Homo sapiens: one gene and its partners. The protein of the gene in region 1 purifies or fractionates together with the protein of each later gene. This does not show direct contact. Each region holds a gene or a part of one and is shown in the gene's direction. Other genes may lie near its edges. The genes, in order: PITPNA, MLKL and ISOC1.

Region 1 (3,649 bases):
AAGTCTTCTGTGCTCTTTCCACACTGCTTACTACCCAGAGTGGCTAAATGCATGGATTCTGAAGTCAGACGAAACTGTTTTGAGACCCAACTCTGTCGTGATCTCTGTGACTTTTTTTTTTTTTTCGAAACGGAGTCTTGCTGTTGTTTCCTAGACTGGAGTGCAGTGGTGCAATCTCGGCTCCCTGCAGCTTCTGCCTCCTGGGTTCAGGCGATTCTCCTGCCTCAGCCTCCCGAGTAGCTGGGATTACAGGCACCCGCCACCATGCCTGGATAATTTTTGTATTTTTAGTAGAGACGGGTTTCACCACTGTTGGCCAGACTGGTCTCGATCTTGTGACCTCAAGTGATCCGCCCGCCTCGGCCTCCCAAAGTGCTGAGATGACAGGCGTGAGCCACCATGCCTGGCCCGATCTCTGTGACTTTGGTTAAGTCACCTAACCTCTTTGAACCTCATCTGTAAAATGAGGGTGATTCTACAGAGCTCTCAGGCTGGGGTGAGGATTGAATGGGATAATACATGCCTAGTGTGTCGTGGGCTCCCAGTCAAGTTAACTGTTATTACAAGGCAGAGGCTGGAATCTCCTAGCTGCCCATGATCCAGTAATGCCCATCTCCAGTAATGGGAGATGGTTACTCTCAACTGTGAACCTAGTGACTTTCATGTATTTTTTTTCCTTCTTCCAGAATGAGTACATGAAAGAAGACTTTCTGATTAAAATTGAAACCTGGCACAAACCAGATCTTGGCACGCAGGAGAATGTGAGTAGTAGTTCCCAAAAGCCCCAGGGGTGAGGTCTTGAGTCTCTGCCTTGTAGCCTCTCCAGGGCTACCATGGGGTCCTCTCTGTGGTCCTCTTTTGCCTGGCCGGGAAGGCAGTGGCCTCTGCCTAGACCTATCTTACCAGCATGGGATTGCTATGTCTCTGATTTGCAAAATGTGATCTCCGGAACTTTTTATGGGGCCTTCTCGTACTGCTTGGATTGGTGCAGTTCCTGGTACATGGGAGCTATATCTTTAAAAGACCAAAATTACAGTTTTCTATAGAGCACAATTTGCAGTAACTCCCAAAAAATAAAATACACCTATCCTTTAGCATTTCCATGCCCAAGAATTTAGACAGTTATTTTCACATGTGTGAAATAACATATATACAAGGAGACTCATTGCAGTCTTCTTTGTGTAGCCAAAGATCAAAAACAATGTAAGACCATCCTGGGCAACATAACAAGACTCTGTCTCTACCAAAAATAAAAAAAGAATTAGCTGGGCATGGTGGTATGTGCCTGTGGTCCCAGCCACTCTGGAGGCCGAGGCTGGAGGATCATTTGAGGCTGGGAAGTCAAGGCTGCAGTGAGCTGTGACTGCACCACCACACTCCAGCCTGGGCAACAGAGTGACACCCTGTCTCCAAAAACAAAAAAACAACATAAGAGCCCGTTAGACCGGGTGCGGTGGCTCACGCCTGTAATCCCAGCACTTTGGGAGGCCGAGGCAGGCGGATCACGAGGTCAGGAGATCGAGACCATCCTGGCTAACACGGTGAAACCCTGTCCCTACTAAAAATACAAAACAGCCAGGCTTCATGGCGGGCACCTGTAGTCCCAGCTACTCAGGAGGCTGAGGCAGGAGAATGGCGTGAACCCGGGAGTCGAAGCTTGCAGTGAGCCGAGATCACGCCACTGTACTCCAACTTGGGTGACAGAGCGAGACACTGTCTTAAAAAAAAAAAAAGAGAAAAAAAAGGCCCGTTAGTAGGACAACGTTAAATGCATTGTGGTTCAGCCAAATAGTGACATCCTTGCAGCCATGGAAAAACCAATAGAGAGCAGTCTTCAAGTTGACTGTTCAGTGAAGGATGGAAGTTATGAAACAAGGTGTGTGCATGCCGCCCTTCATATTAAAAGAAAAATCCACGCACATGGATGTTTGTATGTAGGATCTCTTAGAGGTGGCTGTTACTAGACTGGGGACGAGGGACAAGCAAGAAGAGGAGTTACTCTAGTTACTCTATATTGTATCCTTTTGTAATTTTGAATTTGTGTCATAATTTTGTATTATGTGCATGTACAGCCTGATCAAAATAATCAGCATGTTGCTAAACAGACGCCATCTCTAGAAGGGTTTACAGTCTTTACAGCGGGTCAGCATGTTGCTAAACAGACACCATCTCTAGAAGGGTTTACAGTCTGTACAGCCGGGAACACATGGAAATGGTGTGGGCACCGTAAACATCCGGAAGGCGTTTTGACCTGCAGAAGTGACGTTTACCCTCAATAGTCAGAGCATTCGTTCTCAGTCATGTCACTTAAAATCCAGCGGGGGCTGGGCGGGAGGCCAAGGCGGGTGGAACACTTGAAGTCAGTAGTTTGAGATCAGCCTGGCCAACATGGTGAAACCCTGTTTCTACTAAAAATACAAAAATTAGCTGGGCGTGGTAGCCCACGCCTGTAATCCCAGATACTCGGGAAGCTGAGGTAGGATAATCGCTTGAACCCGGGAGGCAGAGTTTGCAGTGAGCCGAGATCGCGCCATTGCACTCCAGCCTGGGCGTCGCAGCAAGACTCCATCTCAGACAAACAGACAATCCAGCTGGGTTCAGTGTTGTGCACCTATAGTCCCAGCTCCTCAGGAGGCTGAGACAGGAGGATCACTCAGGCCCAGCTCCTCAGGAGGCTGAGACAGGAGGATCACTCGGGCCCAGCTCCTCAGGAGGCTGTGACAGGAGGATTGCTCGGGCCCAGCTCCTCAGGAGGCTGAGACGGGAGGATCACTCGGGCCCAGCTCTTCAGGAGGCTGTAACAGGAGGATCACTCAGGCCCAGGCAGGAGACTGAGAGAGGAGGATCACTCAGGCCCAGCTCCTCAGGAGGCTGTGACAGGAGGATCACTAGGGCCCAGCTCCTCAGGAGGCTGTGACAGGAGGATCACTCGGGCCCAGCTCCTCAGGAGGCTGTGACAGGAGGATCACTCGGGCCCAGCTCCTCAGGAGACTGAGACAGGAGGATCACTCGGGCCTAGGCAGGAGGCTGAGACAGTAGGATCCCTCGGTCCCAGGCAGGAGGCTGAGGCAGGAGGATCACTAGGAGCCTGAGGCAGGAGGATCACTCCGGCCCAGGAGTTCATGCTAGAGTGTGCTGTGATCACTCCTGTGGATAGCCATTGCCTGAGAAACACGGTGAGACCCCATCTCTTAAAAAAAAAAATCCATTCTCCCATTTCTTTGGATAATTTTGTATGTAATTGTATAATTACTTATCATTAGGAATCTTACATCTGTGGCTATGGGAATGGCAGTTCCTAGGTGTCCATTCTGGCTAAAGGATATTTTATAACTGACAAAAACTGCATAGTGGTTCCCCACTTGTTCCCACAGGTGCATAAGCTGGAGCCTGAGGCGTGGAAACACGTGGAAGCCGTATATATAGACATTGCAGATCGAAGCCAAGTGCTCAGCAAGGTAGGATCCGTTTAAAGACGTGGGTGGCCTTCGAGACGCAGAAATGACTTCTCAATGCTAAAGAAACCAGGAAACCATACCCAACTTGGCACAAAAGGAAATTCTGATGTGTCTTGCTTGTTTTATTTTTAAAAGTGAGTATTAGGAGATTTCTTGTCTTGAGTTGGGGATGCCACCAGAAAATTAGTGGC
Region 2 (4,128 bases), on another chromosome or scaffold:
CTTCAATAAATCACAGGCACCTGTGTTACTTGTTGAAGGTGTCCAGGTTCTTGGCATCTTGAACAAAGAAATGGGCAAAATGCACAAAGCAAGGAAAGAATGAGGCAACAAAAGCAGAGATGTATTGAAAACAAAGGTACACTCCACAGGGTGGGAGCCAGCGTGAGCATAGGGGCTCAAGAACTCCGTTACAGAATTTTCTGGGATTTAAATACCCTCTAGAGGCTCCCATTGGTTAATTGGTGTACACCCTATGTAAATGAAGAAGATGAAGTGAAGTTGCTCAGTCACTTACTCAGTGAACGCCATATGTAAATGAAGAAAATATTTCCTGTCATAGCTGAAATGTGTCCATTTTATTTAGTTCTAAGAAGTCAGCGTGAATCAGCTTTATGTTCCCTGCCTGCAGACCCTATTCTCCTGCCTCACCTCAATCTCTTCACCTAAGACAGGAAGAAAACTGATGATGCAGGAGACGAAGAACAATAGCAAGGCGAAGAAATGAATCTCCAAGGCCGGCTTCAAGCGATTCTCCCCTCTCAGGCTCCCGAGTAGCTGGGATTACAGGCATGCACCACCACGCCTGGCTAATTTTTGTATTTTTAGTAGAGACAGGGTTTCCCCATGTTGGCCAGGATGGTCTTGAACTCCTGACCTCAGGTGATCTGGCCACCTCCGCCTCCCAAAGTGCTGGAATTACAGGCATGAGCCACCACACCCAGCTCCCAGTTCTGTTCTTTTAGAGGCAAATAGTCTGTTGAGTAAATGCATAACACTACTTAGACTTTCTAGCTGAAGATGTAGTTAATCTTAAGAAAACCTGACTCACACTGTAACAGGATGTTCTGCAATGACCTTAGAAGAGGAAGTGACTTTTTTCCCACTTTGGTGTCTCTTCCCTCGTACCCTCCCCACCCCGCCAATATTATCCAGCACAGAGAAGCAAACACCAGAAGCTTCTCTCCAACTTTCAGTTTTTCTCTAAACTTCCAGTCCTTCTCATACTGTGTCCTGGTTATAATAGTTGCTGGGACCTTATTCTATTCTGAATCCCCAGCCCCTAAAGAAGGCTTGGTACTGACGTGTACAGCGTAGTTACCCAGTGACTTTGGGGAAGGCAGGAAGAGTGTGGAAAGGACAGGAGGAAGGAAGGGAGGGGCCGTGGCTCCGAGCTGCCTAGAAAGCGGCTCCAGGGAGCCAGGGCACCGTGAGCCTGGTGGTTGGCAGCTGGAGCCACGTCGGAGGGGGAAGTGTCGCAGCATTCTCTGCAGGCATCACAGACCTGAGGCAGTGGCCTCCGGAGGGCACTGGACAGAAACAGCCATCCAAGTGGCTGAGTGGAGGGACCCTGCTCAAGTGCAGCTGCAGTGGCCGGGGTTTCCCTCAGGTAGGGATCGGGGCGCCTTGTCGCCGCCAGCCACGTGTGGCGTCCGGTACAGTCAGCAGAGTGCAGGGTGCGGGCACCAGGAAAGGGGGCGCAGGGGAACTCCCGCGGGCCTCGCGTTTGCAAACTTCTCGCCTGGGCAGGAGGCGGTCGTGGGAAAGAAGGTGGAAGAGCGAGCTTTTTGGAACTGTGCACGGGACAGATTGGACGCACACCCCTCGGGAGGCGCGAAGGTGAGCATGGGGTCTTCCCAGGAGGCGGCGGGGCCGAGGGGCTGCAGCCGAATTCCTGGACGGTGATGGGAAGAACCAGGGGTGAGGGTGGCCCGGTCCGAGTTCCTGGAACTCAGGACCGAGTTGGTTTCATTTCCTCAGCTCTGATGGTGGAGCTGCCTGCTCGGATCTCGCACTACCTTCCGCCAAAGCGAGACGCCCAGTAGCAGTGGGGGTCGTGGAGGGCAGGGGCACGGGAACAAGTTACCTGATGTCTTCTCAGAAAAAGGAAGTCTTCAGGTTTGCAGGCTGAAGGCGTGAGAGAGAGACAGAGTGAGAGAGAGAGAAGAGGGAAATGCCTGATAACCTTTACTTATTTTATTTTATTTTTATTTTTTATTTTTTGGAGGGAAGAGGTGAATTTGCATTGTTATTACCATTTAAAGATTTTTCACTTTTAAAATTAGTAACCTGTTTTCTCATCGTAACATATGAACATAATCCCCTTTTTCTTTTTATTTATTTATTTTGAGAGATGGAGTCTTCCTCTGTTGCCCAGGCTGGAGCGCAGTGGCACAATCATAGCTCACTGCAGCCTCCGAACTCATGGGCTCAAGTGATCCTCCAACCAGATCCTCCCAAGTAGCTAGGACTACAAGGTGCACATCACCACACCCAATTAAATTTTTTTTGTATTTTTTGGTAGAGCCAGGGTCTCGCTTTGTCACCCAGGCTGGTCTCAAACTCCTGGGCTCAGGTGATCCTCCTACCTCACCCTCCCAAAGTGCTGGGATTACAGGTGTGAGCCACTGCAGCTGGCCTGAACATATTCTTAGCTGTTTGTTTTACATATTATAAATAGCACTGCAGTGAACATCTCGGTAGCCATCTATCTACAAACACAAGCTTTTCTACATCATAAGTTCCTAGAAATTCAAATTGCCCAGTCTAAGTGTGTATATATGTATATTCCCTTTCTTCCCTTGTAGATCATATACTTAATAAGACCTTAAACAATTTAAGTTATTGTAGGGTGCTTTTTCCCAATATTTTGCAGTTTTTAATATATTTTAATTTCATACAGGCAAGTCCCCTTTTCTTTATTTTTTAAAATCCTGGTTATCCCTACTAATTTCCCATTTCAAATGAACTTTAGGATCATTTTGATTTAATGCCAAAATATGTCAGTAGATGTTTTATTGGAACTGCATTAAATTGGATTTAAATTTGGGAAGGATTGCTGGGTTGGTCTGTTTTAGTCTTCCCAGCCAGAAATATAACACTTCTCTTTCCTCCTTTCTTCAAGCTTTGTTTTGTGCAATTTTCTTTCTTTCTTTTTTTTTGTTTTTGTTTTTGTTTTTGAGACGGAGTTTTGCTCTGTTGCCCAGGTTGGAGCACAGTGGTGTGATCTCGGCTCAGTGCAACCTCCACCTCCCGGGTTCAAGCAATTCTCCTGCCTCAGCCTCCCGAGTAGCTGGGATTACAGGCGCCTGCTACCATGCTTGGCTAATTTTAGTATTTTTAGTAGAGATGGGGTTTCACCATGTTGGCCGGGCGATCTCAAACTCCCGACCTCAGGTGATCCACCTGCCTCGGCCTTCCAAAGCGCTGAGATTACAGGCATGAGCCAATGTGACCGCTGCAATTTTCTTCATACCATGCCACCACTGTATAATTTATTATTTGAAATTGTTTGTCAGTTCTATGGGTGGGATATTTTCCCCATTTTCCTTTCTGATTAGTTCAGTGCTGAGATATGGCTTTCTGATGAGGCTGCTGGTAAGATAACTGGAGCTTAGAGCTAGGAAGCTACAATTTGCAAGATTCCTTGAACAACATTGCCACATTTGCTTCTGTTTCTGGTGCAACAGAGAAAGTGTAAAACCTTTTGCCCTCACAATTCCCAAGAAATGGCCTTGAAGATATCTGCTTAGCACGTGGGAATAGCTGGGTAGTCTGAGATCCACTAGTCTTTTTAGGAGTGCCCTAATAACTGTTACCTCCCTTGCCCAATCACTGTAACTCTCAGGCAACAAAAACACAACTATATCGATTGCTCATTTATTTAGTTTCACTTCTGCCAGTGCCTTACTCATGTTTTAAAGCCATACTTGGGCTCCAGGCCAATTATTTTCTCCAAGCTGCTAATTAATCCATAAACTGGCGATAATACTTAACCTACCTATTTCACTGAGCTGTTAAAAAAAAAAAAACTAACTTTGTTTTTTGTTGTCGTTTGTTAGTGGTGGTGGTGGTGGTGTTTTTGAGACACTGTCTCATTCTGTTGCCCATGCTGGAATGGAGTCAGTGGCACAATCATGGCTCACTGCAGCCTCGACCTCCCAGCCTCAATCAATTCTCCCTCCTCAGGCTCCAGAGTAGCTGGGACTACAGGCAAGCACCACCACATCCAGCAAATTTTTGTATTTTTTTGTAGAGACAGGGTTTCACCATGTTGCCCAGGCTGGTCTCGAACTCAGGCTCATACGATCCCCTGGCCTCAGCCTCACAAAGTGCTGGGATTACAGGTTT
Region 3 (3,649 bases), on another chromosome or scaffold:
AGGGTGGTAAGGTAGAGCAAATGAGAAAGGGGAGGGCCTTATCAGAGGAAAGAAGGGATGAGTACAGGGCCACAGGGTGGTGGGAAGCAGGCAGGTAGCTGGCCACAGCAGGTGTTTTAGGGTCCTTATTGGCTCTCCCTTCTCTGTTATTGCTGAAGCAGAATCCTATACTGAGATTACAAATAGAAATTATTTATTTTGTTTAGCTATTTTCAAGTCCATTAGGCTATTAGATTATCTGGTAGTTAGGTACTAAGTATTGCTGCTTCTTCCAATCTCAACAAAGACCTTTAATCCATTTCTTTTTTTTTTTTTTGAGAGATGGAGTCTTGCTTTGTCGCCCAGGCTGGAAGTGCAGTGGCACAATCTTGGCTCATCTGCAACCTCCACTTCCTGGGTTCAAGCAGTTCTCCCTGTCTCAGCCTCCCGAGTAGCTGGGATTGTAGGTGCCTGCCACTGCACCCGGCTAATTTTTGTATTTTTAGTAGAGATGGGGTTTTGCCATGTTGGCCAGGCTGGTCTCGAACTCCTGACCTCAGGTGATTTACTTGCCTCGGCCTCCCAAGGTGCTGGGATTACAGGTGTGAACCACTGTGCCCGGTCAGACCTTTAATCTATTCTTATAGTCATGAGTTAATCAATTCCTACTTTTCAGGTTTTCCTGGTAACCTGAGTTTAAATACTTCATTGTCAGGTCCTCACCACCTCAGCCAGCAGCTCTTTCAGCCACTGTGGATAAACCTTTATTGTAATGCTGAGGTCCAGAACTTTGGAAATAAAAAATGAAAAACACAAAACAAACTTCCTTGCTTGTAAAAAAGGACTTTTTTCAAGGACTTTTCTCCTACATTCATATTTTCTTAGATATGTCTTTGTTATGGCAACTTAATGACAAAATTTTGATTGGCAATTCTGTCTTTGCACAAGACTCAAGATTAAAAACAATTCCCATCTGAACCATTCTTTTTAGAGGCAATCTGTAATCTCTCGGATTAGGAATCCACACAATGTGGGGATAATGTGGGTTTGAAGGCAGGTTCTGGTGTTTTGTAAATTTGTGACTTTGAGCAAGTTGTGTAATCTCTATGCCTCAGATTTCTCATTGGTGAAATGGAAATGATAATAGCAACAAGATCATAGGATTTTTGTGAGAATGGAATGAGATAATATATTGATAGCAGTTAGGACAGTGCATGACATAGTAAATACTCAGATGTTAGCTGCTGCTTTTTTTGTTGTTACTGATTGTTGTCTTCACGTGGTTAGTCACCAGAAATGTGTAAGTATATAACCTCTAAGACCCAGAAGGGACTAGTTCTTGGAAGTTCTGAGAAGGGAGGGAAAGAATCTGTTGTCTGGGGTGGATTTGGAAGGGCCTGGAGCACCAACATTGCCTGGGGTTAAAGTGTTGAGGTTGAAAGGGAAAACCGATCATAGATAAGTCAGGTGGTGATTGATAGGGAACACCTGCCATATTGCAGATTTTTTTCCTTTTAGTCTTGATTTGATACGGAGGCGATATACCTTGTTCCTAAATTTGAGGAAGGGGGCAATGTTAAGTGTTCTGGTTTGTTTCCATAAGTGTGAAAGTTAAAATACCATTGTGGTCCTCTCCCCTTCCTCTCTATTCCTGTAGAACATAACTACTGAAGATAATTCCCAAGACTAGCTATATTGCCTGTTAAGATTATTTTAAGATTCATAGTTTGCATTATTGAAACTTCACTGTACCAGGGTCTGTGGCATGTGCTTTATTCAAGAAATGTTTTCTGGGTATTTGTCATCTGAAAGACATTACTCCTTTCAATTAACAATTGTAGAGTGCATGAAGAATAAGAGAATAAAATCCTCTCTTGACCTTGATGTCCTTGTACTTCCGGGGAGTTTTAGTGTTGCTTGGAAATCTAATGGGTTTAGTCTTTTTCCCCCCTCTCTGAGGCTTTCATGACTTAGTGCACATGCATTTTTTAGGTTTGTGGGTCAGAGCAATCCTTCTTTTCCTTTGGCCTAGTTGGATTAGTTTTGCAAGTGTAAGGGGAGAACTTCAGAAGTCTAATGCACATGTACCTGTGTGCATTAAATGGCTGGAGTTTTAACTGCCCCTTTTTAAGCCAGGAGAGAAAGTGGACTTGGGACCAGCATTGTCAGGATGGTGGGCAGGGACTTGCTAGGTATGTCTGGAAAGCTCCTGCTGTTCTTTCTCTGCTCAGGCACGTTCTTTGGTTGGGAAAGGGCAGGCATTGTGGGAATGGCTAAGAGCCAGATTGAAAACCATTGCATTTGCTAAGCTACACCTTTCCCTAACACAGGTTCCTGGCTAGATGATTTTAAAACCCAGTCAGTGTTGGCCACATTTCAATCTTGAAGCAAAGTGATAGTGTATGGGTGTCACTTTCCTAAAATGTATTTCTGTGATGTACACTTCCCACTCTGCCCCTGCTATGGCCACCTGAGTCTCAGCATCACTGAGGCTTGTTAGGCTCAGGTCAGTAGAGCACTAGGGAGTGCTGGGCATTGTAGACAGGCTTCTTGTAGCGTCACCAGATTCCTTCCTTAGACCTGGGAACAGATTTATCTTTCCTGTCTCACTAAGGAACTGGGGAGATTATCGAGAACTAACCTTTATTGGCACATTGGAGTATACAGTGTAAAGCACTCTCACAGACATTGAAAGCCTGTGATTTAGTCCTTGATTCAGACTGAATCATTGCAAGTCCATTGATTCAACAGTGAGCAGTAAGGAAGGCAGGGCTGAGCAGGGCAGGCAGCTGGTGATGGGGAGAGCTGGACATGAATGACTTGACATTCAGTGCTGTTTTCACACAACTGGACTGCAGCTTATCATATTTATTATCTGCCTTTCTGTCTGAAGCAAGCACACGATCTTTTCATATTTTTGAATGGTTTTGATATGATTAATCAGCTGACTATAAAGCAAGGAGGAGGAAATTAGGGCTTCCAGAAGTCTTAAAAAAATACTCAGAGATAACTCACCCCTGGTGTGTGTCTGAGCTTATGGCCTTACTCCAGGCCCCCAACCCCCCCATAAATAGCTGCTGTTTTTGTTTTGTTTTATTTTGTTTTTTTTAAAAAATTGCTGCAAAGTTCTGGTTAGCTGCTCTGCACCCTTTTCTGTACTGGTCATTAAGGTCCAAGCTTGCTTTCTGACAAGTAGGTTATGGCTTATACTCCCTTATACTTCATTACGGATAAAAATAAAGAGTCTGCCAGTGGAAAGGTTCAGTCTGCTGATGTACAGCCATTGAAGGAAGACTGACTTACACTCTGCAAGGATATTTTGGCTATGCAAGGGCTTCCTGGGTTTTTGCCTCTGACTTACCTAGGAATTGTTTCCAACCACTTCCTCTTTCATGCTTTTTACATATATGCTTTTTGTGATAACAGTTTGTGTCTTTTTTTTCCCTGGGATTTCTGATAACACATAAATCCAGAGAATGAATCTGTGCTATAGAATTCTTCTATTTTCCTCCTTTCCTCTCTCTACCCTTTACCCCCGACTTTCTGTTCTTTGCTCTCTTCCTTCCCTTCTTTCCCCTTTGCCTTCTCCTTTCTGTCTCTCTTTTCCTCCTTGAGCTTTCTGTCCTTAGTATTATGATTCCACTGGGGCAGTTTGGCAAGGATATTCTTT

The links.
Region 2: the proteins of PITPNA (region 1) and MLKL purify together in Homo sapiens (affinity purification with mass spectrometry; one large-scale study listed by BioGRID and IntAct). This does not show direct contact.
Region 3: the proteins of PITPNA (region 1) and ISOC1 fractionate together in Homo sapiens (co-fractionation; one large-scale study listed by BioGRID). This does not show direct contact.

The regions. Positions count from the first base shown.
Region 1 is NC_000017.11:1,538,678-1,542,326, reverse strand, and holds part of PITPNA (phosphatidylinositol transfer protein alpha isoform), read left to right. Parts: intron 1-686; coding exon 687-761; intron 762-3,374; coding exon 3,375-3,458; intron 3,459-3,649. UniProt on the Homo sapiens protein: Catalyzes the transfer of phosphatidylinositol (PI) and phosphatidylcholine (PC) between membranes. Shows a preference for PI and PC containing shorter saturated or monosaturated acyl chains at the sn-1 and sn-2 positions.
Region 2 is NC_000016.10:74,697,942-74,702,069, reverse strand, and holds the start of MLKL (mixed lineage kinase domain-like protein), read left to right. Parts: upstream 1-1,207; 5' UTR 1,208-1,617; intron 1,618-4,128. UniProt on the Homo sapiens protein: Pseudokinase that plays a key role in TNF-induced necroptosis, a programmed cell death process. Does not have protein kinase activity.
Region 3 is NC_000005.10:129,108,209-129,111,857, forward strand, and holds part of ISOC1 (isochorismatase domain-containing protein 1), read left to right. Parts: intron 1-3,649.